4 linked regions of the Homo sapiens genome follow. The protein of the gene in region 1 interacts with the protein of each later gene in a pairwise test. Each region holds a gene or a part of one and is shown in the gene's direction. Other genes may lie near its edges. The genes, in order: PIM2, TRIM14, FBH1 and CUTC.

What was found.
Region 2: the proteins of PIM2 (region 1) and TRIM14 interact in a two-hybrid assay, tested with the Homo sapiens proteins (one large-scale study listed by BioGRID).
Region 3: the proteins of PIM2 (region 1) and FBH1 interact in a two-hybrid assay, tested with the Homo sapiens proteins (one large-scale study listed by IntAct).
Region 4: the proteins of PIM2 (region 1) and CUTC interact in a two-hybrid assay, tested with the Homo sapiens proteins (one large-scale study listed by BioGRID).

Annotation. Positions count from the first base shown.
Region 1 is NC_000023.11:48,912,623-48,920,918, reverse strand, and holds PIM2 (serine/threonine-protein kinase pim-2), read left to right. Parts: upstream 1-1,894; 5' UTR 1,895-2,084; coding exon 2,085-2,145; intron 2,146-2,273; coding exon 2,274-2,383; intron 2,384-3,087; coding exon 3,088-3,138; intron 3,139-5,526; coding exon 5,527-5,899; intron 5,900-6,347; coding exon 6,348-6,524; intron 6,525-6,624; coding exon 6,625-6,788; 3' UTR 6,789-7,737; downstream 7,738-8,296. UniProt on the Homo sapiens protein: Proto-oncogene with serine/threonine kinase activity involved in cell survival and cell proliferation.
Region 2 is NC_000009.12:98,083,828-98,090,965, reverse strand, and holds the end of TRIM14 (tripartite motif-containing protein 14), read left to right. Parts: intron 1-2,960; coding exon 2,961-3,496; 3' UTR 3,497-6,613; downstream 6,614-7,138.
Region 3 is NC_000010.11:5,914,243-5,922,695, forward strand, and holds part of FBH1 (F-box DNA helicase 1), read left to right. Parts: coding exon 1-27; intron 28-1,160; coding exon 1,161-1,329; intron 1,330-1,991; coding exon 1,992-2,214; intron 2,215-3,177; coding exon 3,178-3,265; intron 3,266-3,347; coding exon 3,348-3,434; intron 3,435-4,099; coding exon 4,100-4,236; intron 4,237-7,015; coding exon 7,016-7,115; intron 7,116-7,205; coding exon 7,206-7,327; intron 7,328-8,453. UniProt on the Homo sapiens protein: 3'-5' DNA helicase and substrate-recognition component of the SCF(FBH1) E3 ubiquitin ligase complex that plays a key role in response to stalled/damaged replication forks.
Region 4 is NC_000010.11:99,739,394-99,747,846, forward strand, and holds part of CUTC (copper homeostasis protein cutC homolog), read left to right. Parts: intron 1-316; coding exon 317-376; intron 377-3,759; coding exon 3,760-3,969; intron 3,970-4,643; coding exon 4,644-4,679; intron 4,680-7,863; coding exon 7,864-7,997; intron 7,998-8,453. UniProt on the Homo sapiens protein: May play a role in copper homeostasis. Can bind one Cu(1+) per subunit.

The DNA of each region.
Region 1 (8,296 bases):
CTGAGCCACCAACCTTCTTTGTCTTTCAAGACAGAGGGTCACCTGCTGAGAAGCCCATTCACATTCTCACTTCTATCTAAAAATCTCCCCAGTAGCTGTACTACAGATAAACTTCATGGCACGGGTTTGATGCCTGACTTATCTGTACATCTCTGATACCAACATCCCCATCAAGGCCTGGCAGGCTTATAGCAAACCACCCCCAATAACGTTGGGTGAACAAAGGAGAGTACATGTGTGCTTTTTTGGTGTTGTCTGTGTGTGTGTGACTGTGGTGAGTCCAAGTCTTCATGTGCAGCTCACAGAGTGTCCCCAGTTGTGTGTGTGATGAAGGGCTTGTTTCCAGGTGTGTCAGATGGTGACTGAGTGTGGGACTCTTATCTCTGACAGTTTGTGTCTAAATCCAAGATGCGTGCATGCCTGCGTGGGTCTGTCTGTGACAGTGCATCTGTGGTTTCTGTCTGATGGGGTGGATGTCCGTTTGTGTTCCTGCAACAGATTCTGGGTAGCTATTTCTGGACAGTTTGTTCCATTGATAAACTGCATGTGTCATGGTGTATGTATGTCTGTGTCTGAACAGGTCTATCCATGTCTGTTTTTGTGACACTGCCACAAAATGTGATTCTATCACATCAGTACATGTCTGCCTTCAGAGCAGTGCATGTGTGTCCCTGGAGCATCTGTGCATCTTCCTGTGACAGACTCTGCGTCTCTCATTTCTGGGACAGTACAAGTCTTGCTGTGACAGTGCATATCTGATGGTGACAGTGTGTTTGTGACAAGTTCTGCCAGTGTGACGGGACATTTCTGTGTCATCACATGGCAAATGTAGGTCTGCGTGAGTGCCTTTCTGTAACAGTGTATCTCTGGGTGTCATTCTAGGACATAACTATTTTTCTGACAGTGTGCTTGCCTGAAAGTGTATGTCAGTCTCTGGCTGCATGTGTATCTAGGTCGTTTCTGTGAATGTGTCTGACAGTATGTGTTTGTGTATATCTTGGCATTCATGTGTCTTTGGAGTGCATTTTTCTTCCTGGGGTGTGGCGCCTTTTCTGGCTGTTTTTCACAAATTTGTGTCTGAGAGTTGCCACTTCTCTAGCAGCCTCTATCATGTCTCTCAGTCCTTGCCTCTCTCAACTCCAAGAGCAGCCCCATGCCACCACCACTCTGGGCTCACCCCCATCCCCCAAGAACCACCCCCTGCTGTTCTAGATTCTAGACTTGCTGACTGGGCCCAGGGCTCAGGGTTAAAAGCTCCAATAAACACTCACCAGGCAATGCTGCCTTTGACCAATGCACACCCGTGGCGTTGATGGTAGGGGTTCCCCCTCCCTGGCTACCAGATATTTCCAGGGCCCTGGCCTCAGCTTTCCAGTGAAGGCCGCCAGTCGCCTGGAGGACTCCGGTGAAGGAGTCCGACAAGCACCTTTCGAGACGGAGTCTTGGATAGCCACAAGCGCGAATTCTTAGAAGCCCGGCCTGGCGCTATCTCTGTGCTAATATCCAGGCAGCGGCGGCAAACCAACTTCCCAGGAAAGGATACTGCGCAGTTATTTTTTAAGTGTAAATACACACACACACCGCCACCACTACCAACAACAACCCCGCGCAACAACCAAAACAAGCGCGGTGCTGCAAAGGGATTCCCAGAACCGGTTTCCTCTTGGTGTGAGCCCCACCTCAAGCCCCCTCATTTACATGCAGGCCCCGCCTCCTCGGAAGAACCGAGCGTGTATTTGCATAAGGGGGCCCTTGAAACGATGAGGGTGGTATGCAAATAAGAACTGGCTCCGATTGGCTGTGGTACAGCAGGTGCCGCGTCCGGATTGATCAAAGCCAGGTGGGCGGGGCTGTCGCCCAGGGTGACTCTCCCGGGAGGCGCGTGCCCAGGCTCAGTAGCATTGGGGCTGGCGCGCGCGGCGAATCTCAACGCTGCGCCGTCTGCGGGCGCTTCCGGGCCACCAGTTTCTCTGCTTTCCACCCTGGCGCCCCCCAGCCCTGGCTCCCCAGCTGCGCTGCCCCGGGCGTCCACGCCCTGCGGGCTTAGCGGGTTCAGTGGGCTCAATCTGCGCAGCGCCACCTCCATGTTGACCAAGCCTCTACAGGGGCCTCCCGCGCCCCCCGGGACCCCCACGCCGCCGCCAGGTGAGTACATCCTCCCCTACTGCAACCAGACGGGGTGGGCTGGAATGATGGGTTGCAGCGCGGGGGGAGGGAGTCGTGGCTGGGCTCAGCACGCCGCCACCCTGACTTCCTCGCCTCCGCCTGCGTAGGAGGCAAGGATCGGGAAGCGTTCGAGGCCGAGTATCGACTCGGCCCCCTCCTGGGTAAGGGGGGCTTTGGCACCGTCTTCGCAGGACACCGCCTCACAGATCGACTCCAGGTATCCGTCATGAGGGTCTTGGGAGGGTCAGGTGCGTGTGGCGGGGGCGGGGGTCCTGGCCCTGGAATGCTGGTTGACCGAGGAGTGAGCCTGCAGAGTGTGTAGAGGACCAGGTGTGTGTGTGTGTGTGTCCGTGTCCGTGTCCGAGGAGTGAGCCTGCAGTGTGTGTAGAGGGCCAGGTGTGTGTGCGTGCGCGTGTGTGTGTCGGTCTAGGAGGTTATGGGCGGGGGGGGGGGGCAGGGGGCTTCAGATTCCGGAGTTCCTTGACCCCGGGGTCCAGGCTGTGTATGTGTGGGAAAGCAGGGACCTAGATGTGAGATTTGTGGGACTTTTGGAGGTAGGTGTCCAGTGTGGAGTCATGCGGACCAGGACCCTGGTACAGAGTTGGGGTGTCGTAGAGCTAAATAGGAAGATTGTGGGCCTGGGGTATCAGGAAATCTAGAACTCAGGACTTGGAGTGATGAGTCCTGATGCCTGAGAACGGAGAGCCCAGGGCTAAGGAAGGTGGGAGAGATAAACTTGGTTCCGAGGACCTGGAGGGCAGGGGAGACGCCCTGGTACGCGTTCTGTGGGGTGCTGTGGTTGGGGACCAGAAAGACTAGAGTGCTGGTAGATGGAGGAATACTGGAGGTAGGCAGAAGGTCTAGACTGGGAGGGGTCTGGGGATCACCTGCTGGCCTCCTTATCACGGCCTTCTTCTCCAGGTGGCCATCAAAGTGATTCCCCGGAATCGTGTGCTGGGCTGGTCCCCCTTGGTGAGTACCTTCGGAGCCCTTCCTAACCTACCTACTCCATCACTGATGTATTCACCTCCTTGCTTTTCCAGGGGATGTATGACTCCCTGGGCCCTGTAACAGTGAGAATACTGCCAGCCCATTTATACTCCCTTGGGGTGACATACAGTTCTGATTCACCCCAATTCCCCTAGAGCCCTGGATTCTCCCCTCCAACAAACCTTTACCATCCTTCCTCCAAACACTGCTGGGGGACTGCCCGCAGGGCGTGCTGGTGGGGAACAAGGGGCAGAGGTCACTGGTTGCCATGGTGATGGTGGCTGCTTCTCTCTTGCCGTTATAACGCTAACGGACATCAGGGCGGGTCTGGGCAAGTTGTAGAGTTGGGAGCGCCCCCTGGCGGGCTCTAGGGGAAACTGCGCCTGCGCAGTCCATGGGACCCAAAGGGAGAGGGTGCGCCTGCGCAATATCGGTATTTTTGCATCTCGGTGAGAAAACGTCTGCTGCCGTGCAAGTCAGCAGCCTGGCCAGGAGAGGGCTCTACCTCATCCCAGAAGGTTGCTGCTCGAAGTGTACCTGCGCAGGGCTTGGGGAGGCAGTGGGGGGCGGATTTTGTGGCCCCCAGCGTTTATACTTTTTTTTTTTTGGAGACACAGTCTCCCTCTGTTGCCCAGGCTGGAGTGAGGTGACGCGATCTCGGCTCACTGCAACCTCCGTCTCCTGGGTTCAAGTGATTCTCCTGCCTCAGCCTCCCAAGTAGCTGGGACTACAGGAGCGCACAACCATGCCCGGCTAATTTTTGTATTTTTAGTAGAGACAGGGTTTCACCATGTTGGCCAGGCGGGTTTTGAACTGCTGACCTCAGGTGATCCGCCTGCCTCGGCCACTCAAAGTGCTGGGATTACAGGCATGAGCCACCACGCCCGGCTGCATTTATGACTTTTTTTTTTCCTTGAGACGGAGTTTCGCTCTGCTGCCTGGGCTGGAGTGCAGTGGCGTGATCTCAGCTCACTGCAGCCTCCACCTCCTGGGTTCAAGCGATTCTCCTGCCTCAGGCTCCTGAGTAGCTGGAATTACAGGCACCCGCTGCCATGCCCGGCTAAGTTTTACGTTTTTAGTAGAGACCGTGTTTCACCATGTTGGCCAGGCTGGTCTCGAACCCCTGACCTAGTGATCTGCCCGCCTTGGGCCTCCCAAAGTGCTGGGATTACAGGCGTGAGCCACCGCGCCCGGCCTCTAATTTTGTATTTTTAGTAGAGACGGGGTTTCTCCATGTTGGTCAGGCTGGTCTCGAACTCCCGACCTCAGGTGATCTGCCCGTCTCGGCCTCCCAAAGTGCTGGGATTACAGGCGTGAGCCACTGCGCAGGGCCACATTTAGGCTTTTTATTGGCTGGTTCTAGGTGCTTGGTGATGCTGACAAAACACATGATAACACTAAGTCCTTTTGTGCTAGGTCCTTTGTAATAAATCACTCAGCTGTTTAACAAATTAGGTATATTGACCACCTACTATATGACAGACATAATTCTAGACACTCAGCAAAGTATTACATAAGTATTGAGAGCTCATTTTGTGCTAGGTCCTTTTTTACTAATTGTTTTCACCTGTTTAACAAATATTTATTCAGCCCTACTCTGTTAGCAGCCACTGTTCTAGTGCTTCATATACGTCCGTGAACAAAACAAACCATTACACAATAAGTGTTTATTGAGTGCTAACTGCTTGTCAGAGCCCATGCTATTAAGTGCTGTCATCTGTTTAACATTTATTGATCACCTGTGTAAGGTACTATTCTAATCTGGGATATGTCAGGGAACAAAACAAAACACATAATGGTGGTGCTGCTTCTGCTGAAAGCCTTCAGTTGATAACCAGATTTTTCTTTGTATTTTTGCTTGTTTGTTTTGAGACAGCTGGAGTGCAGTGGTGTGATCTTCACTGCAACCTCTGCCTTCTTGGCTCAAGCGACCCTCCCACCTGAGCCTCCCAAGTAGCTGGGACTACAGGTGCATGCCACCAAGCCTGGCTAATTTTTGTGTTTGTGCCATTTTGCCCAGGCTGATCTTGAACTCTTGGGCTCAAGCAATCCACCCACATCAGCCTCCCAAAGTGCTGGGATTGCAGGGATGAGCCACTGTGCCTGGCCGAACTTCTTTCGTTTATTCAAATGTTTATTGATCTACGACATGCGAGATTTGTGCAGGCTCTTTGCTGGTTTCACCCTCTCAATCGCTGTGTGAGTTTGTGTCTTTAGGGAAAGTGAGGCCCAGGAAGGGAAGTGAGTTGCTTAGCGACACACTGTCAGGAAAAGGGGCCCTGAGTTGAGCTTAGGTAAAAAGCCTCAGAGCTGTTGCCCTGACATCTGTCTTTTTTCTCTCCCTGCTTCCCACCCCACCTGTGCCCCCAGTCAGACTCAGTCACATGCCCACTCGAAGTCGCACTGCTATGGAAAGTGGGTGCAGGTGGTGGGCACCCTGGCGTGATCCGCCTGCTTGACTGGTTTGAGACACAGGAGGGCTTCATGCTGGTCCTCGAGCGGCCTTTGCCCGCCCAGGATCTCTTTGACTATATCACAGAGAAGGGCCCACTGGGTGAAGGCCCAAGCCGCTGCTTCTTTGGCCAAGTAGTGGCAGCCATCCAGCACTGCCATTCCCGTGGAGTTGTCCATCGTGACATCAAGGATGAGAACATCCTGATAGACCTACGCCGTGGCTGTGCCAAACTCATTGATTTTGGTTCTGGTGCCCTGCTTCATGATGAACCCTACACTGACTTTGATGGTAAGGCTTCTCTAAATCTCCCTGGAGGGATTGTTTTTACTTGATGGCCTTGTGACCTTTGGCCTCCAGTGGTGGGGTGTCCTGTAATCCTTGACCCATACTGCATTATATAAGATGATCGATTGCTAATACTGGGGATTCTCAGCCTTGCCCTCTGATAAAGTCCATCTTTTAATGGTGTGCTAACCTTATTCTGGGCTCCTATTCTGGTGAGGGGATCCTGTTACCATCCTGAGTATTCTTTCTCTGGTAAGGGGATCCTGTTACTTTTCAGTGCTTTTATTCTGTTGAGGGGACTCTGTTATTTTAGCTGCTTTTTATCTAGTGAGGGGACTCTGCTTTTATCTTGAGTGCTCTTAATTGTGGTGAGGCCATCCTTCCTGGAGAGTTTGGGGTTGGAGAAGGGCATCATGAGATTGAGTTGGTCTAACCCCTGGCTTGTGTGCAGGGACAAGGGTGTACAGCCCCCCAGAGTGGATCTCTCGACACCAGTACCATGCACTCCCGGCCACTGTCTGGTCACTGGGCATCCTCCTCTATGACATGGTGTGTGGGGACATTCCCTTTGAGAGGGACCAGGAGATTCTGGAAGCTGAGCTCCACTTCCCAGCCCATGTCTCCCCAGGTGAGGCCTCACTGACCCCAGCCCAGAAGACTCCATCCTTCTCAGGGACCAGTACCCCCTACTGACTGCTAATCTTCCCTCTCTGCTTCTTGGCCTACAGACTGCTGTGCCCTAATCCGCCGGTGCCTGGCCCCCAAACCTTCTTCCCGACCCTCACTGGAAGAGATCCTGCTGGACCCCTGGATGCAAACACCAGCCGAGGATGTACCCCTCAACCCCTCCAAAGGAGGCCCTGCCCCTTTGGCCTGGTCCTTGCTACCCTAAGCCTGGCCTGGCCTGGCCTGGCCCCCAATGGTCAGAAGAGCCATCCCATGGCCATGTCACAGGGATAGATGGACATTTGTTGACTTGGTTTTACAGGTCATTACCAGTCATTAAAGTCCAGTATTACTAAGGTAAGGGATTGAGGATCAGGGGTTAGAAGACATAAACCAAGTCTGCCCAGTTCCCTTCCCAATCCTACAAAGGAGCCTTCCTCCCAGAACCTGTGGTCCCTGATTCTGGAGGGGGAACTTCTTGCTTCTCATTTTGCTAAGGAAGTTTATTTTGGTGAAGTTGTTCCCATTCTGAGCCCCGGGACTCTTATTCTGATGATGTGTCACCCCACATTGGCACCTCCTACTACCACCACACAAACTTAGTTCATATGCTCTTACTTGGGCAAGGGTGCTTTCCTTCCAATACCCCAGTAGCTTTTATTTTAGTAAAGGGACCCTTTCCCCTAGCCTAGGGTCCCATATTGGGTCAAGCTGCTTACCTGCCTCAGCCCAGGATTCTTTATTCTGGGGGAGGTAATGCCCTGTTGTTACCCCAAGGCTTCTTTTTTTTTTTTTTTTTTTTGGGTGAGGGGACCCTACTCTGTTATCCCAAGTGCTCTTATTCTGGTGAGAAGAACCTTACTTCCATAATTTGGGAAGGAATGGAAGATGGACACCACCGGACACCACCAGACACTAGGATGGGATGGATGGTTTTTTGGGGGATGGGCTAGGGGAAATAAGGCTTGCTGTTTGTTCTCCTGGGGCGCTCCCTCCAACTTTTGCAGATTCTTGCAACCTCCTCCTGAGCCGGGATTGTCCAATTACTAAAATGTAAATAATCACGTATTGTGGGGAGGGGAGTTCCAAGTGTGCCCTCCTCTCTTCTCCTGCCTGGATTATTTAAAAAGCCATGTGTGGAAACCCACTATTTAATAAAAGTAATAGAATCAGAAGCGGCTGGCCATTTGTAGGTGTGAGGCTTTTATGGAGCATCTACTGTGCACTGAGACAGACTGTCCCTCTGCTTTGTCCTCAGGAAGCCACAGTCTTATGTTGCCATCCTAAAGAGCTTTAAGGATTCTTGAAGCTGCACCACACACACACAAAAAAATCTTGATTCCCCTGCCCCTGATCTTATGCAGTGCCCAGTATGTGCAGAAGGGTTCTCTGTTGGAGATACTGTGCATATTGAAGGTGTTTAGGGCACATCCCCAATCAAGATGGCTATCTCAGAAGCAGAAAAACTACCTTCCCTGGCACCCCAGGGGAATGAAGAAGCCCTTTCCCCTGTTGCAGAAGAAAAGCCCTGTCAGGGTACTGGCCAGGGCGGGGCTGGGGTTGGGCGCTGACTGGAATCTGTCCAGGGTGTAGTCACCTGTTTTGCTCTTTATCTTTAGCCTCTTCCCCCATCTTTACCCTTACATACCCATCCCTCTAATTTCTCCTTCAACACTTGACTTACCTGGCCTACCCTATTCCATGTTGGTTTCACTTGTTCCGACCTGAGTTGTT
Region 2 (7,138 bases), on another chromosome or scaffold:
GTGATCACTGCCCCTGGTGTTGGGAGGGGGACAGTGAATATCAAAACAGAGGCACTGAATAAATTTACATTTTCCATACAAAGGCTAACATACTGATTTAAAGGCCGAGCACGGTGGCTCACACCTGTAATCCCAGCACTTTGGGAACCCAAGGCAGGTGGATCACTTGAGGTCAGCAGTTCGAGACCAGCCTGCACAACATGGTGAAACCCTGTCTCCACTAAAAATACAAAAATTAGCTGGGCATGGTGGCATGCACCAGTAGTCCTAGCTGCTCAGGAGACTGAGGCAGGAGAATCGCTTGAACCCGGGAGGCGAAGGTTGCAGTGAGCCGAGGTCGCACTACTGCACTCCAGCCTGGCAACAGAGCAAGACTCCGTCTTAAAAAAAAAAAAAAAAAAAAAAGTGCACAAATCAAAAATGTGCAGATCAATCAGCTCAATGATTTTTTAAAAAGGAAACATATTTTGTAACCACCTTCAGATCAAGAAATGGAAATTTCCACTCCCCAGAAGTCTTCCTCATGTGCCTTCTTGTTTACTATCCCCAAAGGGGATCCACTCTCCAGACTTCTAGGACTATAGGTTAGTTTTACCTGTTTTTGAACTTTCAGTAGATCATTCACACTATACCCTTCTGTGTTTTGCTTCTTTCACTCAATATGAGATTTATCCATTTTTGTATATTGACATACTGAGTGGCTGTTATAAATTCACTTAGTACTTCTAAGCTATCTACAGATTATTTGGGTTTTTGTGTAAATAAGCATGTCACCTATGAATAATAATCTTTCATTTCCCCGATCTTTATTCTTTCCTTTCACTTCTTTTTCGTGCCTTGAGTTACTGTCTACTACATTTAGAACATTGTTGAATAGAAGTGGTTATAATGAGCAGCATTTTCTCCCACCTTAGACATATATCCAACAGAAATGCATACATATGTGAATCAAAAGACCTGCACAAGAATGTTATGTGACCGAAACACAGGTTCAGTTGCTCAACGCTTTGCAGAGTTCAATTAACAAGAGCGAGGTCTGGTATAAAGAAAGTGGTTTTATTCTAAAGATTAGCTTAGGGGAAGAGGTACAGGCTCCTCCTGCCCTTAACGGTACCGCCTCACTTTTGGGGCAGAAAGCAGAGGCTTTTAAATGGGGACTTTGTATGAATGGCATGCAGGGAAGGAGCAAGCAGATGGGGGTCTATATGACTCATTTTGATGCGTTTTCTACCAAGTGGTTGAGCTGGTGCCATTGAGGGCAGAACTAGGTTGTAATGTGGCCGTTGTCTTGAGATGCTGTCCGGGTGGAAGAGTTCTGTTGAAGGCATACTTTATGTTGTAAATTGACTGTTGTCTCTTAAGGCAATCTCCTGGTGGGAGAAAGTTCTGGTTCTAGACCCTCTAAGTAGGTAGATAAGTTTGCCCTGTAGGGACTATCTGGTGAAGGGAAGGTAATGGTTATAATTACATTTCTAAAGAGCTAAGTAGAGGCAGGGCACAGTGGCTCACACCTGTAACCACAGCACTTTGGGAGGCTGAGGCAGGCGGATCACCGGAGGTCAGGAGATCAAGACCAGCCTGGCCAACATGATGAAACCCTGTCTCTACTGAAAATACAAAAATTAGCCAGGCGTGGTGGCAGGTGCCTGTAATCCTAGTTACTAGGGAGCCTTAGGTAGGAGAATCGCTTGAACCCAGGAGGCCGAGGTTGCAGTGAGTCGAGATCACACCACTGCACTCCAGCCCGGGCAACAAGAGTGAAACTCCATCTTAAAAAAAATAAAAATAAAGAGCTAAGTAGGAAGTGGGAGACAGGAGAAAAAGGGGGAAAATCTTAAAAATAATTCATTCTCTTTCTCTTAGAAAAATGCTCTTTTTCTTAGAAAACTCAGTCTCTGTTACACGTTTACAGTTATAGCAACATTAGTCACAATAGGCAACACGGAAACAATCCAAATGTCCATGGAAAACTGTTTGGCCTTGTTTATGAAAGCTGAATATCCACATACCCTGTGATCCAGACTTAAAAAACAACAACAACAACAACAAAAAAAACTTCATGTGTACATACATGGTGTAATGCAAAGAGAAATGTTAATGAGAGTTTAAATCACTACAAACTTTGGGGAGGATAGTTTTGCAATATGTATCAAAGACCTTAAAAAAATACCCATTGACCCAGCAATTCCTGTTTTAGGAGTATATTCTACAGAAGCAATCAGATACGTAAAAATGTAATTGTATTAGTGGTTTCAAAAGCTTTTTAAACGGAGGACTAAGTTATGCGTCCAAACATCAAAATTTTAGAATCTCCACTAAAATGCTCTTGTGAAAGGATATTATGATGTGTCAAAATGCCTCACAAGTAGATCAATCAATTTTAAAAAGCAGATTACCTAACGTCATGTATGGTGTGACACCAATATTAAGAAAAGCTATAAAAATTAGCCGGGCGTGGTGGTGGGCGCCTGTAGTCCCAGCTACTCGGGAGGCTGAGGCAGGAGAATGGCCTGAACCTGGGAGGCGGAGCTTGCAGTGAGCGGAGATCGCGCCACTGCACTCCAGCCTGGGCAACAGAGCGAGACTCCGTTTCAAAAAAAGAAAAAAAAGAAAAAGAAAAGCTATAAAGCAGCAAGGGGAGGGGAAAGATAGGAAGTACACACACCCTAATGTTAACAGTGATAGGATTAGTTTTAATTAAATTTGTATTAATTGGCAACAAATTTCACGGCACAAAATACAGACAGTATAAGGGATGTGCAGCAGAGTGATCTCTTCTTCCCCTTTCCCCAAGACCCCGCCCCAGGGGCAGTCGCGGTTTAAAGGGGTCTGTCACCCCTTCCTTGGGCCATTTCCGCGCTTCGCATTTTGTGATTTGCACGTGCGTTGGTGGGTTCCCGGGGGCGGGGCGCCGCGCTGGCCCCGCCCACCAGGTGCGTCCCTTGTCTCGCCCCCTGCAGACGCGCGCACGCCCACGCTGGATCCTGACACGATGCACGCGCGCCTGCGCCTGTCCGCCGATCGCCTGACGGTGCGCTGCGGCCTGCTGGGCAGCCTGGGGCCCGTGCCCGTGCTGCGGTTCGACGCGCTCTGGCAAGTGCTGGCTCGTGACTGCTTCGCCACCGGCCGCCACTACTGGGAGGTTGACGTGCAGGAGGCGGGCGCCGGCTGGTGGGTGGGCGCGGCCTACGCCTCCCTTCGGCGCCGCGGGGCCTCGGCCGCCGCCCGCCTGGGCTGCAACCGCCAGTCCTGGTGCCTCAAGCGCTACGACCTTGAGTACTGGGCCTTCCACGACGGCCAGCGCAGCCGCCTGCGGCCCCGCGACGACCTCGACCGGCTCGGCGTCTTCCTGGACTACGAGGCCGGCGTCCTCGCCTTCTACGACGTGACGGGCGGCATGAGCCACCTGCATACCTTCCGCGCCACGTTCCAGGAGCCGCTCTACCCGGCCCTGCGGCTCTGGGAGGGGGCCATCAGCATCCCCCGGCTGCCCTAGGGGCCAGGACCGGCGTGACAGCCTCCAGGTACGCCGCAGCTGCCCAGTCTCGCCTAATCTACCTAGATCAGCGTGGCTGGTCCCCTTACTGCCTGCTTCTTAGGGCCCTCTCCCTGCCCCAGCTTTCCCCGACCAATCACGCCTACAGTGCTTTGAAGGTTTCCTCTCCTAGGCTAGTTTCAAACAGGCCCTAAACAAGTCTGCTGCTGCCCTCTCATCAGACCTCCGCACCCTCACCCCACCATCACTTACACTACTTTAATCCAGTTCCTTCAAAGTGATACCCCCACAGGTAAGCCCTCAGCATCCTGAATACATCATCCGCAGCCTGGGAACCTTCTCCCTCGTACAGCACAGGAACCTGACACATAGTAGGCACACAGTAAACGTTTGTGAATGAATGGGAGTCATCCAGTCCTGACTCTTCTGTCTCTTGAGGTCCCTTGAATCTTCCGCTTCCTCCCCACCGATTTCAGCGTGTCCACATCACAGCTCCCTCCAGAAGCTGCAAGAGCTTCTTAGCAGTTCCTGGTCTGAACCCTCTCCCAGTCCTCATCTTCCACCCTAAAACTAGAGTGATCTTCCTAAAACTTCACTTAACCCCTCAGCTATGAAAAGGCTTCCAGGAGTTTCCATGAAATAACAAAAAAAAATACAAGCGCCTCACCTTAGCATTCAAGGCTTGTCTAGTCTGCCCAAAATTACTTATCCTCACCTAGCTCCTACCACTCTTCTTAGAGACTCTCCAGTCAGAAATGTGTCGCATAGTTCCACCTCCACACCTCTCTGCTGCCAGCACATTCATGCAGAAAAGTCTTTTCACCTGTCTCAGTCTTCCGCAGGCTTACCTGCGCCAGGAAGTCTAACCAAGGAACAAGAATCTCACTATCAGAGCCACAAATCTGGGACCTGTCTTTCCAACTAAATTGGAGGCTTTGGAAGGGCAGCTTTGTCCTATACTCTCTCCACCCTGAAAAGTTCCCAGAAAGCCCCTTCCCTCCCAAGCAGTGAATTAATAACCAGCAGGTGCCTATCACTGAGTAACAGAAGAGCTGAGTTAGGCGGGCCTCACAGGTCACCCAGCCAGATCTCATCTGGGGAGTCTGAGGTCCTGAAAGAAAGCAGAGCTGCGTAAAGTTACCCCGGGGTGATATAGGGGGGCCAGACGTGTGCCCCGTTCACCCACCCCCAGGCAAGCATCTGACCTGTCCCCTGGCCCAGCCCTTAGGCCCAGCTTTCAACCTGCTTACTCATTTCTCAGGGGATTTTGGGAAGGAATCAGCAGGTGACAGTTGCTAAGCAACCAAAGGGGGTGGTGTTTCCCAACTGTCTTGGGACAAAAAGGGTAAGAGCACCCTTAGATCCAGATGTTGCCAAGGAAACCCAGAGTGCCCAGCTGTCTGGAATGAAGTGACAGAGGTAGAAAACAGTAGGCCCTCACAGGAGGCCACCTTCGCTAGCAGGGAGTGGGAGGCTTCTTTCCAGGGATTTGTGTCTCCGTTCTGAAGGTTCTGCGTCCTGTTTTGTCAATTCCCTAGACGGTTTTGAAGTTATATTCTGTTAAAGCATCTTCATAGGTGCTTGGTGGGAGGCCAAGGTCGCCGAATCCTCGTGGTTTAAATAGACTTTCAGTGCATTAGTTTGAACCATATAAAACTGACAATTTTCAATAGTTTTTGAGTTAAAAATGGCACTTTTGATATGAGACAATGTAGCAGAATACCAGGCAGACAGAACCTTGCAAACACCTTAACTTCTAACCAAAGACTTTAAAACTCTGGCTGGACAGAGTTTTAAGCACTATGCTGCAGGAATCCTGAGAAAAAGGGGAAATTAATTCTATTAGGAATGGCCCAAACTGAATTGTGACAGGCAGAGGGTGTTCCTGACAGAGGGAAGATGAATACACTTGACCCCAACATTTCTGCCCATCCCTGATGACCAAGACCTCTTCCCAGACCCACAGCTGCAGGGGCCAAGTAATAACAGCTCTTAATAGTTTATAATGCACTGTTTTAATGCTTTACGACTAAACTCATCTGATCCTTTCATCAGCCCTAGAGGGTAGAAAGTTTTCCCAATTCTACACATGGCAAAATGGAGACCCAGAGTCACTTGCCCAAGGTCGCACAGCTAGTGGTGGAGCTGGAGTCTGGGCCCAGGCTGTGAGTTCCAGGTCTGTGCTCATGGCCACCAGGCCCTACTGCTCAGGGTGAATGCAGCTGGTCTCTGGCCAGTGCCTGGTGCTCTGGCCCCTCTCGTGGAGCTACTGCCCATGATGCTTTCCTAGTGCCTGGTTACTCTGCGAGACTTGAGTCTACCTTTGGACTGCCTTCCTTGGGGGTCTGAGATGAGGCCTTATGGCCCAGAGGGGAACTTGATTCAAAAATTTGGGATTCATGTAGCAGAGACAGAGCTAGACTGTAAAGGTCACAAACTAGCTGTGTCAAGGCCCGTGATAGCCAGAAAGCGGCAGTTTCAGTCCATATCAATTGTGTGACCAGGGCTAGTCACTTTTTACTTCTCAGTGCCATCTATAAAATGGGGATAATAGCACTACCTACCAAGTGCTGTGAGGCTCAAATGAGCCAAAGGTTATAAACTTGCCTTAAAACTATAGTCCTATACAAAAATTAGCTGGGCGTGGTGGTGCATGCCTGTAATCCCAGCTACTAGGGAGGCTGAGGCAAGAGAGTTGCTTGAACCCAGGAGGCGGAGATTGCAGTGAGCTGAGATTGCACCACTGCACTCCAGCCTGGGGACAGAGCAAGACTCTTGTCTCAAAAAAAACAAAAAAAACATATATACTGCTGTATCATGCCAGGATTTATCAGCATTCCCAAGGGAGCTTGCACGGTACTGACCGAGTGCTGAGACTACTGGTATTCCCAGCTGCCATGTGGCAGCAGCAGGAGCTACTAGAATATTCTCAGCACAGGAATGAGGCTTCCTTGGTTTCCATGTCTGTAAGGGTTACTGATCACTTACCTTCTTCTCTTTCAGACTTGAATCTGTAGACATTTCTTTATTGATATGGCAAATTGCTTGCAGATATTTTTAAATGACAGCAATTTTCTAATATTTGGTTTAATAAAATGTGAATAATGTCCCTTTTAACCATGGTCTTCACTGGGAGTTCATGTTGCTTCAAGTCCCTAGCACCCAGTGATACCCCCACAGGTAAGCCCTCAGCATCCTGAATACATCATCCGCAGCCTGGGAACCTTCTCCCTCGTACAGCACAGGAACCTGACACATAGTAGGCACACAGTAAACATTTGTGAATGAATGGGAGTCATCCAGTCCTGACTCTTCTGTCTCTTGAGGTCCCTTGAATCTTCCGCTTCCTCCCCACCGATTTCAGCGTGTCCACATCACAGCTCCCTCCAGTTCATGTTGCTTCAAGTCCCTAGCACCCAGACCCAGAAGGGCCTTTACTCATATCTTATTCCTTACGCAGCCTTCTGGTAGTAGTCAGCTGCTCCCTGATTAACTATCTCCAGGGATGGGGCATTCACTGCTTCTGAAGATAACTCATTAAAGTTCTCACTTACGTGTAAACAAACCCTGACTCCCACCTGTTCCCATCCAAGATCGTATTATAGCTTGAACTCCTGGTCTCAAGCAATCCTCCCACCTCAG
Region 3 (8,453 bases), on another chromosome or scaffold:
AGGTGGTGAAAATTATGGCCTTTGCCGGTAAGGGAGCCCACATCAGGTTCACGAGGTGGTGGTTTTCTGCCTTTTCTCCCTACATCCCCTTCCCGCTACCTGCCAGGGCATCTTTGCTCTGATCTGTCATCCAACTAATAATTCAATAACAGATCAAATAATCAATCTCAAAAGCAATTGGCCAAGGAATACTTACTTCCCCGGACCACTCCATGAACATCCACAGAATTCCTGTTGAGACAGGTAGTTCACAGCAGTTAGTTGGTCGGGCAGATGCCCCCGGGATTGAGCCCAGCATTGTGATGTTTGCTCAGGCACTGATTGCTTCTGGAGAGGGAGGGCATGTTAATCCCCAGCCCAGGGTTTCAGGAGCTCCCCAGTTTTATAGGGTGATGTCTAGAGGGCCTGCCTTAGATTGGCTTTTAACTTACATTCATAAATATATTATCTACAAGTGTCCTGCCTCAGTCAGCCACGCCGATCCACTCACAGCCTCCTGAAGTACTTGGTTACTCTTTCATCACAGCCTTTGCTCGTGCTATTTGCTATTTTTTTTCTGCCTGTAATCCCTTCCTGCTCCTTTTGTGGCTAAATACCCTGCTAACAACAACAACAACATTTTGAATGCCTGCAGTGTGCTTGGCATTGTGCTGATCCTGATAGCATTCCGTAAGGTTGCTTAGTTATTCTTGTTTTATAGAGGAAGAAACTGAAGCACAGAGAGCCTTGCCCGGGGTTGAATAAGTGGATAGGTGGTGGAGGTGGAATTCAAAGCTGGACCTGTCTCTCTCCAGAGACATGCCTTCCCCCTCCCTAACCCTACCCTCCTATCCTGAGGGGTCCTTTTTGCCCTCGGGAACCCTACCTCTAATGGATACCCACTTATTTCTGAGAAGCAAACTGAAGCTCATGAGGTCAAGGGGTCCACCTGTCCTTTGCCCCTCGGCTGGAGCCTGCCCCAGCTGAGATCCCAGCCCACCTTCACCTGGCTTTGAATCTGCTGCTCTTTTGGTGGCACTACTTTTACCAGCACTGAAAAACTTGTTACTGTCCTGCTCTCAAGACAGAGGTGTGATAAGCCTGGACAAGGCCTGATTGGGGATCCCTGGGCATGTCTTGTCTGGTCAGAGGGTCACCTCCTTTCCTCCTGGCTTCCCCAGGCACTGGGAAGACCTCAACGCTGGTCAAGTATGCAGAGAAGTGGTCTCAGAGCAGGTTTCTGTATGTGACATTCAACAAGAGCATCGCAAAGCAGGCCGAACGCGTCTTCCCCAGCAACGTCATCTGCAAAACCTTCCACTCCATGGCCTACGGGCACATAGGGCGGAAGTGAGTACTGCTGTCACTAGTGGCACTGTTGCTGCTGGCACGGTCGCGTCTTACTGTTTTCCCGTGACGATCACATGTGAGCTTACACCACAGTGACCCCGAGGAGTGTAGTGCTGTTATCTCCACTTACAGGCAGGAAACAAATACATAGGTTTAGCCATTTGTACTTTTATCCTGTAGCAACATATTGTTTACATATAATGCCGTCTTGCCAAGAGGGGTGTTCTCATGGAAGTGAGGCACAGAAAGTCAAAATGACTTGCTTAAAGTTCAGAGTCTCACAAATCCTGATCAGTTGTAGGCTTTTCTTGGAAGGGAGTGAGGAAGACTCAGCCGAGGCACACTTGACCCAGGTCTCCTGGATGTAGAGGCATCAGGGAACTCCAAGGGTCCCTCCGGGGACCTTCTGGAGCCCAGCTTCATGGTGGAATAGCAGTGTCTGCCGAAAGCTGGTTCCTATTCTGGGTTGGTACATGTGAGTCCTGAAAGCCATTTCCAGTCAGACATGGACCATGCAGAACTTTTTCGCTTTAAAACATTAACACTCGCCTGTGTGTGGCACTTGAAGCTACCTCCTGGTGACATTAGAGAGAATGGAGGGGACGTTCAATAGCACCAAGCCAGGAGAGCCACGTGCTGTTCATTTGGGATGGGTATTGCAGGTACCAGTCAAAGAAGAAGTTGAATCTCTTCAAGTTAACACCCTTCATGGTCAACTCCGTCCTTGCTGAAGGGAAGGGTGGATTCATAAGAGCCAAGCTTGTGTGTAAGACTCTAGAAAACTTCTTTGCCTCGGCTGACGAAGAGCTGACCATTGATCACGTGCCTATTTGGTGTAAGAACAGCCAAGGACAGAGAGTCATGGTTGAGCAGAGTGAAAAACTGGTGAGTGTCTAAGTGTCTGAAGTGTTAGGGATCTGAGGATGGGGGAACAGGGGAAGTGTTAGGGATCTGAGGATGGGGAAACAGGGGAAGTGTTAGGGGTCTGAGGATGGGGAAACAGGGGAAGTGTTAGGGGTCTGAGGATGGGGAAACGGGAAGTGTTAGGGATCTGAGGATGGGGAAATGGGAAGTGTTAGGGGTCTGAGGATGGGGGATCAGGGGAAGTGTTAGGGATCTGAGGATGGGGGAACGGGAAGTGTTAGGGATCTGAGGATGGGCAAACAGGGAGTGTGGGACAGCATTATTTCTTCTTTCATTTCTTCAGACCTGGTCATAGGAGGTTGAAGGTGGGAGGGTGAGGCTGTAGGCCCATGGTGATGGCTGTGAATTGTTGGGTATTTTCTCCTGTGAAGGACACTGGTGACCATCTCACTTAAGCCTCGGAATAGTCCTCCCATTTAACAGAGAAGGCAGACATGGAACGACCCGCCTCAGTTTATAAGAGCTTGTCACTGGGGCTCCTGGACCTCAAAACTGATCTTAACTGAAGGCTGGAATCTCTCCTGATTTTCTTGGGTTATTGGTTCTATGGAATAGATTTTGCTAGTGGGAAAGTCTGTTTCTTTTTTTCATCAAGTCTTTTCAATCATGTGCCATTGTTTTTGTGAATTAAGCATCAGTCATAAATCTAGAAGAACAATTTGGCCTTTTCTGGTTCACCTAACTGTTATGATCTCTGTCCTGTCACGGGCATGGCACGGCCCGGCTGCTTCCTGTCTCAGCACTGGAGACCCTCTGGCGTGGAGAGGCTGTTGAGGAGACCCAGGAGGTTAGGGTGGTGTCTGCGGTCCCCCTTCTGTGAGGATGCCCTGGCTCCACTGCTGTATGGGAGTTGACAGTGTGACCGCAGGGTGCTGCCTTTGCCAGGGTCTCAAACTCTGGGTTACCATATGCTTTACTTCCTAGAATGGTGTCCTTGAAGCGAGCCGCCTCTGGGATAACATGCGGAAGCTGGGGGAGTGCACAGAAGAGGCGCACCAGATGACTCATGACGGTAGGCGGCTGCCGAATGGCGGGGACTGGCCAATGGGACTGCCTTCCTGGCGTTACAACTCCTGCGTCTCTCCTTATTTTAGGCTACTTGAAACTCTGGCAGCTGAGCAAGCCTTCGCTGGCCTCTTTTGACGCCATCTTTGTGGATGAGGCCCAGGACTGCACACCAGGTGATACACTGTTCAGGACATCAGTAGTGTCAAATACGTAGAAACAGCGCCATGATTATGTAAGAGGACACCTGTGTGAACTAAGTTGATTATTATTATTTGTGATAAAGAAGAGGATCTTCATACTTACCTTAGGATTTCAAGCTGCCCCTTCCCCTCACCCAAGCAGATTTCTCTGTCACCATAGGTTTTGCTTAGGTTGTTCTTAACATGTTGACCAAGTTGTAGACCAGCAGACGACAGGGACCTAGACTCATGCTCTGTGGGAAGAGATCGTCCATTGACAGGGAAAAGCTTGTGTTGTCTACTTCTCAAGTGGCTAGGAGAGAACAGACAGTGTTATCCGTCTGACTTTGTAGGTCAATTTTGAGTGCTATAATATTAGAGAAGACACTGCCTCATTTTAGATTTGCCTGTGTTGTTTTCTTATATTCCAACAATTCATCCAAGGCGAAACATAATCTGCATTCCTAGCACCAGAAACTGTTTCTTTTGTCCATTATAAAATGGCTGCTTTTGATGGAGTGTGCCTGTCCTACAGGAAAAGGCGACCGTGAGGTCCAGTGTGCCCTGGCTTAGCTTCGTGGAAGTGTTTTTGTCCTTTTCTTTTTGCTGCCTGGGGTGGAGGCCTCAAGGTTTCTCACTTTTCCTCTCGTTGGTTACAGCTATCATGAACATAGTTCTGTCTCAGCCATGTGGGAAAATCTTTGTAGGGGACCCGCACCAGCAGATCTATACCTTCCGGGGTGCGGTCAACGCCCTGTTCACAGTGCCCCACACCCACGTCTTCTATCTCACGCAGGTAAGTGCGCACTCTGCATGGGAGGCATTGCATCTCTCTCCCAATGTCTTACGTGCCAGGCCCTGTGAAAGGTGGTATGCCAGGCTCACCAGATCTAGCAAATCCTTGCTTCTAAGCCATGGTTCTCAAAGTGTGGTTCTCAGGGGTCTGCCAAGTCACACTGTTTTCATAAGAGGTGTGTGCACAGCGGTCGTCTGAGGAAGAGCTGCTGCGGCTGAACTGTGAACCGATGGCTGCTGCCGCCTTGTACATTTGTGCTTAGAACAGTTGTTAGACCAGCGCTGGTTGTTCAGACTTGTGTATTTGGCACTTTTTCAAAGACAAGTGAAACAAGCTGCGACTTCAGGGAAAATAACTGACAGTGTTTGTTGTCAAAAGTAACATCTTTGCTTTCAAGTGAAATTAAAATGTTGGCAAACTCTCCCATAATGAATGTGACAACTCACAGTGTCCTTGATTATGCGAAAAGTTTATTATGCGCTCCTTCCTTTCCAATCACATGTCTGTGTGAGGTTGAATTTTCTTCATGTGTGTCAGCCAAGACAGTATATCTCAGCAGGCAATGCAGATGTGAACACAGGAAGCCAGCAGTCTTCTGTTATGCCAGGCATTGAAGAGATTTGCAAAAATGGAACATGGTGCCACTCTTCTTGCTGCATTTTTTTTTGTTCTCGGAAATATGTTTCAAAAAATATGTTCTTTATGTCATCATATAAGAGGCTTTTGGCTGGGCATGGTGGCTCATGCCTGTAATCCCAGCATTTTGGGAGGCCAAGAAGGACAGATCACTTGAGGTCAGGAGTTCAAGACCAGCCTGGCCAACATGGTAAAACCCTGTCTCTATTAAAAATACAAAAATTAGCCAGGTGTGGTGGCTCCCGCCTGTAGTGTCAGCTACTCAGGAGGCTGAGGCAGGAGAATCACTTGAACCCAGGAGGCAGAGGTTGCAGTGAGCCGAGGTCGCACCATTGTACTCCAGCCTGGGTGACAGAATGAGACTCTGTCTTAAAAAAAAATAGTTTTTAATAGTTATTTTTAAATGAATTAAAATTTATAATATGGTAAATATAGATAGATAGAGCTCATGTAAATAAAAGCTCTTTGGAGGCTTTTTAAGTGTGATTTTTAAGTGTGAAGCATCCTGAGACCAGCAGTTCGAGAACCACTGCTTTTAAGAAACTTATTTCTGATTAGAAGAGATGTCTCACTTGGATGAAAGTATCAACTGTGCTGTGTTTTGTGATGTTATTGAAAGTTCCGTAGACGCCTCTGTGACTCTTCCCTTGAGCTCCTACTGCTGTGGTGATTTAGGGTAGCGTCACTGCAGAGGTGATTTGTTCTTTTAATAGATGGTATTTTTTTAGAACAGTTTCAGATTTACAGAAAAATCGAGAGGAGAGTTCCCATATATCCTGTACTCAGTTTCCCATTACTAACATCTTATCGTCTTATATTAATGTGGAACACTTGTCACGATAATGAACCAACATTGATACATTATTATGGACTGAAGTCCATGGTTCATTTGCATTTCCTTAGTTTTGAAATAATGTCTTTTGTGACTTCAGGAGCCCATCCAGGATCCCACATTACATGTAACCATGTGTCATGAGGCTCTTCTTGGCTGTGACAGTTGCTCAGACTTTCCCTATTTCTGATGTGACCTTCACATTTTCCAGAAGTTCCAGTCAGGCATTTGTAGGCTGCCCCTGTGCTGGGATTTGTCTAATGTCTTTTCTCATGGTTAGGCTAGAGTCCTGGGTTCTGGGAGGAAGACCACAGAGGTGAAGCGCCATTTTCATCACATGGTGTTGAGGTGCATACTGTCACCATGGCTCATGACTTGATGTTGACCTTGACCACCTGGCTGATGTAGTGTTTGTCAGGTTTCTTCACTGTAGAGTTCCACTTTTTTTCATCCTTTCCTTACTGGATGCTTTGGAAGGAAGTCCCTATATGCAGTCCACACTCAAGGAGTAAGTGTTGGAGAATCTTCCCAAATTATTTGGAATTCTTCTGTAAAGGAGATTTGTTTTTTCTCTCCCATCTATTTAAATATTCAATCATTTATCTATCTTAATATGAACTCATGGATATTTATGTTATAATTTCGGTTATGGTTCACTCAGAGTAGTTTTATAGCAACAAAGTAGTGTTTGTTTAAAGTCTAGTTTTCGTTTGACTGTTACTGCTATTCACCAAAGCACATGAAGTTGTGTGTGCATGGAAAAAGGCTGTACACACCCCGAGTGTAGGGAAGAATGATATCTTGCCAGCTGGAGGGGCGAAGGAAGCAGGGTCTTGGGCTGAGTTTTGAAGGTTAGGAAGTGACTTTGGTGGATGAAAGTCAGACAGAAAACCGCGTGGGCTGAGGCAGGGCAGCACGGACAATGTGCAGGTGCTAGTGCTTCTGCCATGGCTGGTTGGTGCAGGGCAGTAGTTTTAAAGGTAGTGTGGAGAGGGATCTCAAAGGCAAGGGGAGAAGCCCTCCTTACCCGATCTTCATCTTTTGTATGATTTAGACTTCACTAGATTTGATTTGGAGAAAAGGGTAGATTTGCTTAAAAGAAAAATTTACTATTGGTGTTGAGAATAATGGAAAATAAAGACTGCTGAGTTGTGAAGGACCTTGAAAGTGAGCCTGTGAAGTTCGCTTTCCATGCGGGGGGTCAGGAACAACTTGTAGGGTCTGGCCCGGCCAGGCTGTGGCAGCAGTGATGGAAATGCACGGACACACCACAGGGCGGGCTGCTGACTCCCTCTGTCTTGTTGTTTTCAGAGTTTTCGGTTTGGTGTGGAAATAGCTTATGTGGGAGCTACTATCTTGGATGTTTGCAAGAGAGTCAGGAAAAAGACTTTGGTTGGAGGAAACCATCAGAGTAAGGCTTTTAGTTACTCTTCTCTTTTGTGTTACAAAAGTTTTCCTCTTTATTTCAATTTGCCATAGAGTTTGTGCTCTCTCCCTAAAGGTGGCATTAGAGGTGACGCAAAGGGGCAAGTGGCCTTGTTGTCCCGGACCAACGCCAACGTGTTTGATGAGGCCGTACGGGTGACGGAAGGGGAATTCCCTTCAAGGATACATTTGATTGGGGTAAGAGTACATTTCTGTTGACCACTTCATGCACAGAAACGTTGTAGACGAACATACCCAATGGAAATGTTCACCTTCCTTGGGATTATCATGCAAGAAAGCATTTGGGTTTTTGACTCTTTCCACCAGGCTGCACCATGAGTGGTCTCTATCCCAGGCCATTCTGATTATGCCAGCGAAACATTCCTGGAAAGGCAGACACAAGAAGGGCTGGGGACCTTAGTTTCCACTCTTTTAACAATGAATGCCCTTCTTCCCTTGGCAATGCCAGTGAGGCCGCGGGTTACTGGAAGCTTTTCTAGTCATGTGTTGTCATTAGTGTGAGAACAGCTGAGCTGACAACACGCAGAGTACACACCTAGGCTCTAGTTCTGACTGGTCACTAACCGTGTGTGGCTTGGGGCAAGTCACAACTTCTGTATGCCTCATTCTCTCCATCTCAGATAAAATAATGCCTTGCCTTACCTGTTTCACAGGGAGTTAGAAGGATTCAGTGGCATGTTTACAGCATTTTTAACCCTGAAGCACAGTTATATGATAAAAAGATATTCACTCATTCATTTATGGAAAGATTTTCAAGAGCCTACTATGCATTAGGCACTCAGTGAATATAGTAGTGAATCATAATCAAAAGGTGTTTTAAGTTTTTTGTTTATAAAGACTATATAACAATGGTATAGAAATTTTGGAACCTAAAAAAAGAACACATAATCCCAGTATTTCATATAATAATTCTCATTTTTGCTATTTTTGTCTTTGTCCTTATAGATGTGTATTTTTGCATAATTGCAATTGTAGGGTACACAGAAATGGATGCTGTTTTTCACTCAACACATAGGCATATTTTCTTTCATTAGTACTTTGATGACCTTATAATATTTGGTCTGGTAGATATAACATAATTTAGCCATGGTCATTGTTGTAAGAGTAGTATTTTTGGAATATCATACACACTGGCATGATATAAAGTAAGTGGTTCTCTACACCTCTCTTAAATCCACTTACTAGCTGTACCATGTGTCATTACACGTGATCACACACCTGGTTGTGGGTTATAATGTCAACTGTGTTATTTTGCCCGCTGTTTTATGTGAGTGTTTTATGTGTCCCTCCCTAAAAGATGACA
Region 4 (8,453 bases), on another chromosome or scaffold:
TCCACTATAGTCAGTTTTAAGAAACATCTTTATTCTATGTTACTTTCCTGTACATAGAGAGGCAACCCTATAATACAAAAATTTAAGAGAACTAGCTTAACTTTAATTAATTTTTAAATTTGAGTATGAGTAACACAATGTGGGCTGCAGAGTATAGCTGAGTTAAAAACAGAGTTTTACTCTAGCTTTATAATTTGATTTCTCTGAGATGATTTCTAAGACTGTTCTATATTTGGAAAAAATATATATAAACAGGTTGCTGTTTAATAACAGCTTATTTTTTAAAAATGTGTTGAGCAATGCTTTTATATTACAGGTGCTGATCGGATTGAATTATGTTCTGGTTTATCAGAGGGGGGAACTACACCCAGCATGGGTAAGTGTCCATTTTTCCCAGGTTTTCTGATTGGAGTTCATAGAGCCTGGAAGCAACTGATAATCAGTTTCGTTGGGGTCCTTTACTAATGTCATGTTAACTATGTTATGGATGTTGTATCAGAAATGTTTATGATTGTAAAAAAATCAAAGATTTGATCAAACATATTTCTTTCTCACATCAAAAAGTTGAAAGGTAGGTAGGTAATTGTTAATACCGGTTCAGCTGCTCTGTAGTAACATCAAGGATTAGGCTTTTATAAAATCTTTCCATGCTGGCATCCTTAGTATATTGAAATCCCCTCCTGGTCTTTGTGCTATTGTTGTCATATATTTTACTCATACATATATCAAAAACTCCATGCTGTATTGTTAGTTTTGTTTGAAGAGTCAATTATCTTTTGTTAAATAAGAGATTTAAATAATAAGAAAAAAATCATATATTTACCCACATGCAACTACCATTTCTGGTGTTCTTTATTCCTTTGTGTAGATCCCGTATTTCTGTCTGGTTTCATTTTCATTCTGCCTGAAGTACTTTCTTTAACTTTTTTTGTTAAAAAGTATGCTAGTGATTCATTCCTTCAGCTTTTATATGTCTAAAATAGCTTTTTCCTTCATTTTTGAAAGGTATTTTTGCTGGGTATAGAATTCTAGGTTGACAGGTTTTTTTTTTCTTTGAAGATGTTTTTCCATTGTCGTCTTGCTTGTATTGTTTCTGACAAAAAGCTATCATCCATATCTTTGTTTTTCTCTATGTAATATGTCTCTTTTTTCTACCTACTTTTAAGATTTTTTTATTATTGGTTTTGAACAATTTTCTTATGGTGTACCTGAGTATAGTTTTTTCATGTTTCTTGGACCTGTGCATTTATACTTCTCATCACATTTGGAAAATTTTCAGCTTGCAGCTTGTTCTCCACTCCCTCCTTTAGAGACTTAAGCTATTCTTACATTAGACTACTTGAAATTGTCCCAAAAGTCACTGATGAACTTCTCTATTTAAAAGAAAATCTCCTTTCTGTGTTTTCATTTTGCATAGTTGCTATTGTTTTGTCCTTGAGCTTACTGACCTTTTCTTCTGCACTATCTAATCTGCTATTAGTCTCTCCTGGTATGTTTTCATCTCATACATTGTAGTCTTCATCTGTAGAAATTTGAGTCTTTTTATGTCTCTGATGTCTCTTAACTTTTTTGAACATGTGGAATAAAGTTATGATAGCTGTTATAATGACCTTGTCTGCGAATTCTAACATCTATATCAGTTCTGGGTTTGTTTCATTTGATTTATCATCTAATAATATATCTTATTTTCCTGCCTTGTAATTTTTTATTGGATGCAAGACATTGTGAATTTTACTTTATTGGTTACTAGACATTTTTGAATTCCTACAAATGTTCCAAAACAGTTTGGTCCTTTTGGGTCTTGCTTTTAAGATTTGCTGGGCAAGTCTGGAGCAGTGGTTAATACAGAGCTAATTATTCCTTACTACTGAGTCAGGATTCTTCTGTGAACTCTACCCTGTGACCATGAATTTTGAAATTTTCCTGTCTGGCTGGTGGAATAGGCATTATTCACAGCTTGGTATGAATGACAGGCACATTATTTCTAATCCTTTTTATTGGTTCTGTCCCAGGCCTTGCGTAGTTTCTTTGCATGCATGCACCGGTCAGTACTCAGCTGAATATTAAAGGAGGTTCTCTGCAGACCTCCAGAGTTATCTGTCTTCCTTTCTTCTTTCATTCCTTCCTTTCCTTTCTTTTCTTTCCTTCTCCTTTTCTCTCTCTTTGCTTTCCTTCCTTCCTTTTTTTCTTTTGACAGGGTCTCACCTGTTGTCCAGGCTTGACTGAAGTGGTGTGACCATAGCTCCCTACAGCCTCAAACTCCTGGGCTCAAGCAATTGTCCTGCCTCAGCCTCTCAAGTAGCTAGGATTACAGGCATATGCCACCATGTCCAGCTACATTTGTTTGTTTGTTTGTTTGGTAGAGATGGAGTCTCACCATTTTACCCAGACTGGTCTTGAACTCCTTGCCTCAGGCAATCCACCCATCTCAGCCTCCCAAAGCACTGGGATTACAGGCATGAGCCACCGTACCAAGCCTATCTTTTTTAAAAAAAATCCTTTTTTTAAACCATTGAGATAGTCTTTGCTACTCCAGTGTTATCTTTCTGTCCTCCCTGTACTGTCTCCTATAAACTCTAGCTACTTCAGTCTTCCTGAACTCTAAGCTTTGTCTCCTTAACTCAGGGAATTGTTTTGGCTCCATGTGGGTCCCCCATCCCTGTGCTTTGGCCTAGAAACTCTCAAGGCAGTAAATTGGGTCAATCAGAATTGACTTACTAACTTCATTGTTTACCATTTTCAAGGATCATTGCCCTTCACTGCTTAATGTCCAGTGTCTTGCAAACCACTGTTTCATATATTTTGTCTGTTTTTTTATTATTATTATTATTATAGGTGGGAGGGTAAATCCAGTCACTGTTACCCTGTCTTGGCCAAAAGCAGAAGTCTGTGTATGAATTGTGGTCTCCTAAGTTATGCTACTCTGAGGTTGATAATAGCATTATTTAATGTAAAAAGTTTGTATACACAACAGCCCTTTGGAATCTTCACATGAAAAGAGGGCATTCCTGGCCATTCTAAAATCCCTAGAGCATGTCTGTAAATTTGAGTACAGTCTGTTTTTGTAACACCAATTATGATTCATTGCTTAGTATTGGACAACTGCTATCCTATGCAAAATTGGAGTTCTTTTAGCAAGAAAAAAGAAAGAAATTCATACTGGGTAAACAACTGATGGGGCCTGTCACAGCCTTATACTATTGATGGTTTATGAGCTAGCCACTTATTATGGCATATTTAGGTACTTTTATGCATAGATCTCTGCATAAAATCACAAATAAGTAGAACTTTGCTCCCTTTCACGTATCTTGTTTAAAAAAAAAAAAAAAAGGTTTTGCTAAATGTCTTTGCCCATTAAAGGAATATGAACTTTGAAGCTATTTAACCATCTCTCCAGTAGGTTTTAAATAGAGCTGTAATGAATTAGAAAGAAGAAATTGGATCTTGGGGAATAATGTACTGGCAGAACATCGAGCCTGGTAGTTATTGCACTTTCAAATGTCACCTACCAATAAAAGGGTTCTGAGTCATAAGGATTTTTGTTGAGTCAACTGACAAGTGCTTTTAAATTGTAGCATCTTCTGTTTTCTAAATCGTTCTATTTAACCCTTTGCTATTACTTACCTTCTACCATATATACATTTTTCTTCTCAGTGTCTGTCCTACCTTTTAGAGCCATCTTTGTCTGGTAAATGACCAATAATATATCATTGGCTTTTAGCTCACATTTGAATTTTAATCTGCTTTCTTTTCTTGTAGGTGTCCTTCAAGTAGTGAAGCAGAGTGTTCAGATCCCAGTTTTTGTGATGATTCGGCCACGGGGAGGTGATTTTTTGTATTCAGATCGTGAAATTGAGGTGATGAAGGCTGACATTCGTCTTGCCAAGCTTTATGGTGCTGATGGTTTGGTTTTTGGGGCATTGACTGAAGATGGACACATTGACAAAGAGCTGTGTATGTCCCTTATGGGTAAGAATTTGTATCTAAGACGTAAAAGCCTCTAATGATAATTGTATTTATGCTCACAATATAGAAAAACAACATCACAAAACTGACTTTGCGGTCATAGCTACAGACACTTATACTAACCTAAGTATTTCAAATAGTAGTTATTTAGATGTTTGGGGTGGGGTGTATGTGTGGCAAAGCCTTCTTAACTCTCCTCAATTGCTATAGATTAGGCTCCGCTACTGTTCCCATAGAATAGAAATTTAAGGGAAATTTACCATGGTTCCTTTAACCACTGCACCAAGAACTTCAAAAGTATTATAGTTGGTGAGGATGGACCACCAAGTTGGAAGATGCAAAGAGGACAGAAGCAAACTACCTATGTTACTAAACCAAAGTACTTATTGAATGACCTCAGAGGGACAAGTATTAGATGTAATGCTGCCCTTATAGTTGTCAGATTAAATGGTTTTCATTTGGTGATAAGCCACGACCATTTTTTTGTATAAAAATCAGAGATTTGTGGAAAGATAAGACTTTTGAATTTGTAAGGCTGCCATTTTATTATTATGTCAGTTTACTGTCTTGTTAGGCGAAGAAAGTATTAAAAAGTTTCAGCTAACATGGAGAATTCTATATATAGTAATCAGTGATGACATCTTCATTCATGTTGTTATATGACTTTCTTTTTATAGCTATTTGCCGCCCTCTGCCAGTCACTTTCCACCGAGGTGAGTCATTTTCATTTTAAAAGTTCTATTGAACAGTGTTAGTTTTCTAATTTCAACAACTGCCACCACCTTTTTATGGAACACAATTCTGTAGTGTTCCAAGGTTACCAATTGGTTTTTTAGATCCTAGGACTAAAAGTTATAAAAGTAGAGATGTGCAATTTCTAGAAAATTTGAAGCCTTAGTTATGAAAAGTTGTTAAAAGTGGGTGTAGGTGGTGGTGGGATATAAGAGAGCGAGGGAGAGAGCAAGTATTGCCTTCAAGTGTGTGTACCTATCATAGCATTCCAAGCAAGAATCCTGAGACTCATTTTAACTGAGACTGTATTAGGTCATGTGCAACCCCAAAAGAATAAATTGTTGTGGCTGGTGAAATGAAAGGTACTGTCTATCTTAAGCCAGGCAAAACCATCCCTGGGGCTAGCAGTGAGGTGGGGTTTCACAGATAGAGACTTCTTAAGGGGAGAGAAAGTTGGGTATCTGGAGAAGAATTGGGTCTTATTAGGAAGGGAGAAAGGAGAAACAGATGCAATCTAGTGTTGACTATCTAGTCAATGAACAGATGTCCACAATAGTATACAAAATTATTTTTCATTATAGCTTGTCTGCACCACAGTGATTTTTTAATGTGATACTTTCTTGTAAAGAAATATTTCCTGTAAAAAATCAGGTAGATATAATTTTTTTTGTTTGTTTGTTTGAGACGGAGTCTCGCTCTGTCGCCTAGGCTGGAGTGCAGTCGCACGATCCGGCTCACTACAACCTCTGCCTCCCGGGTTCAAGCAGTTCTCTGCCTCAGCCTCCCGAGTAGCTGGGATTACAGGCGCCTGCCACCATGCCCAGCTAATTTTTGGATTTTTAGTAGAAACAGGGTTTCACCATCTTGGCCAGGCTGGTCTTTAACTCCTGACCTCGTGATCCACCCGCCTTGGTCTCCCAAAGTGCTGGGATTACAGGCGTGAGCCACCACCCCTGGCCAAAAAATCAGGTAGTTATAATTTCTATACTCTTAGGCTACACCTTGGTAAAATGGAAGAACAAGTATCTATTTTGCCTTCAGAGAGCACTGCCATTGCACATGAAAAGAAGTCTACAGTCAAAAAAAATTTTTTTACTTCAAATTTCTGTTCTGTTCTTTATTCCAATAGGTTTAACAAAAATATTTTCATATTTTCAAAATTTGTAGAATTTTTGGGTTCCACATTTTTCTCACTAATGTATTTAATGAGATATCATAATATAGTTTTAGTGGTGAGAAGGTGCTGCCACCAAAATAGGGAAATCCTCTGTGGTAGATTTAGTTGCCTACATACACTAAAGGGTGAAATGAAGGGGCCTGTCCCAGAGGACCACTACCACCTAATCCACTGCAGGCTAGAGCTTCAATGTCATGTAGCAGTATGAGAACCAAAGCAGAAGTAGATTTTCTGTTTTCAGTTTCCTGATACCACTTTACTCTTTGAGGGCTCTGAGGAGGGGAGAAATCTCTTAGAAAGTAGGATGGGGCTGGGCACAGTGGCTTACCCCTATAATCCTACCACTTTGGGAGACCGAGGTGGGTGGATCACAAGGTTAGGAGATTGAGACCATCCTGGCCAACATGGTGAAACCCCGTCTGTACTAAAAATACAAAAATTAGCTGGGCGTGGTGGCGCATGCCTGTAATCCCAGCTACTCGGGAGGCTGAGGCAGGAGAATCACTTGAATCAGGGAGTCAGAGGTTGCAGTGAGCCGAGACCGTGCCACTGCACTCCAGCCTGGGCGACAGAGCAAGACTGCATCTCACAAACAAAAAAAAGTAGGTTGGAAGTGAAACTTCATATAGTCTGTTGAAAACAACTACCCTTATGCTATGAACCTTGAGTATGTGGGGTTAATAGATTAATCCAAAATATTAGTCAGTAATGAGAATGTGAGCCAAGGCTTTTTCTAGAACTGGTGAGTACAGTGTTTCATTCTACCTAGTCCAATATTTCTGAAGCCTTAGAACAGTTTCCCAAATTTGACTCACCTGCCTATCACATTTAAAATTTTACCATATATGAGTGCTACCTGTGCACATTTTTATTTAATCATTTTCTTTAAATAAAATCTTAAGTATGCACCCATAAAAAAGAACAAGATCATGTCCTTTGCAGAGGCATGGATGGAGCTGGAGACCATTATCCTTAGCAAACTAACATAAGAACAGAAAACCAAATACCACATGTTCTCACTCATAAGTGGGAGCTAAATGATGAGAACACATAGACACATAGAGGGGAACAACACACACTGGGGCCTTTCCGAGGGTGGAGGGTGGGAGGACAGAGAGGATCAGGAAAAATAACTATGAGTACTAGGCTTAATACCTTGGTGATGAAATAATCTGCACAACAAACTCCCAAGACACGGGTTTATCTGTATAACAAACCTGCACTTGTACCCCTGAACTTAAAAAAAAGTTAAAAAAAAGTAAATTTATTTTAAATAGAAACTTTTATAATTACTTTATATTGAAAACTTTTCATTTCTTATCTGCATTTAAGTAAATATACTATTTAAATGTGTACCATTATTAAAATGATTATGCACAGTGGTATGTAGACTGTGGTGTGCTGATGAACTGGCTCCTAGAAAAAAGAGCCCTGATTTGTAGCATTTTTAAATTTCTGTGGTTTAAATACTCTACCTTCACTGAATTTTTTTATTATTATTAATTAAATTTTTATTTTTCTTTTGAGACAAGTCTTGCTCTGTCGTCCAGGCTAGGGCACAATGGTGCAATTGGCTCACTGCAGTCTCGACCCCTTAGGCTCAGGTGATCCTCCCATCTCAGCCTCTCGAGTAGCTGGGACTATAGGTGCACACCACCATGCCCAGATAATTTTTGTATTGTAGATATGGGGTCTTGCCACATTGCCCAGGCTGGTCTCAAACTCCTGCGCTCAAGTGATCTCCCCACCTCGGCCTCCCAAAATGCCAAGATTATAGGCACGAGCCACTGCACCTGGCCCTACCTTCACTAATTTCAGGCTGCCAGTGGATTAACAATCTGACTTGCAGAATTCTTGAGTGTTTAATAATTGGCCTTTGTAAGCCAGTACAAGCTAGGTCCAGCATGCCACTGCATGTATACTACATTTTGGGAAACTCTGCGTTAGAGATACCTGTTCAAAATTCACATCAGTTTTATTTATTTCAGCCTTTGACATGGTTCATGATCCAATGGCAGCTCTGGAGACCCTCTTAACCTTGGGATTTGAACGCGTGTTGACCAGTGGATGTGACAGTTCAGCATTAGAAGGGCTACCCCTAATAAAGCGACTCATTGAGCAGGTACGTGGACTTTATCTTTTTTTCCCCTAAGACTCTGTTGTGGTTACTCCTGACATTCTGCTGTTTAGCCAGTTTGTGAGACTATATATTACTGACTTTGTGGTTACTCTGTAGGAAAAGCAAGCAGGCAATAATGTATATAATTCTTATTTCTTTCACACAAGCCTTTTTAATAACCAAGGCTTTCAAGATCAAATTACATATAGATAGTGCCTAAAGATCTGATCTAACTTGGATAAGCACAGCAAATTTTACCTTTTCTCTGCCATGGGCATTGCAGTTTTTTTTACTTTTTATTTTTATTTTTTAGTTTAGATATAAGGTCTTGCTGTGTTGCCCAGGCTGGTCTCGAACTCTTGGGCTCAAGCCATCTGCCTTCCTTGCCCTCCCAGAGTGCTGGGATTACAGGCATGAGGCACTGCGCCCAGCCAGCATTGCAGTTTTAAGCCACATCTT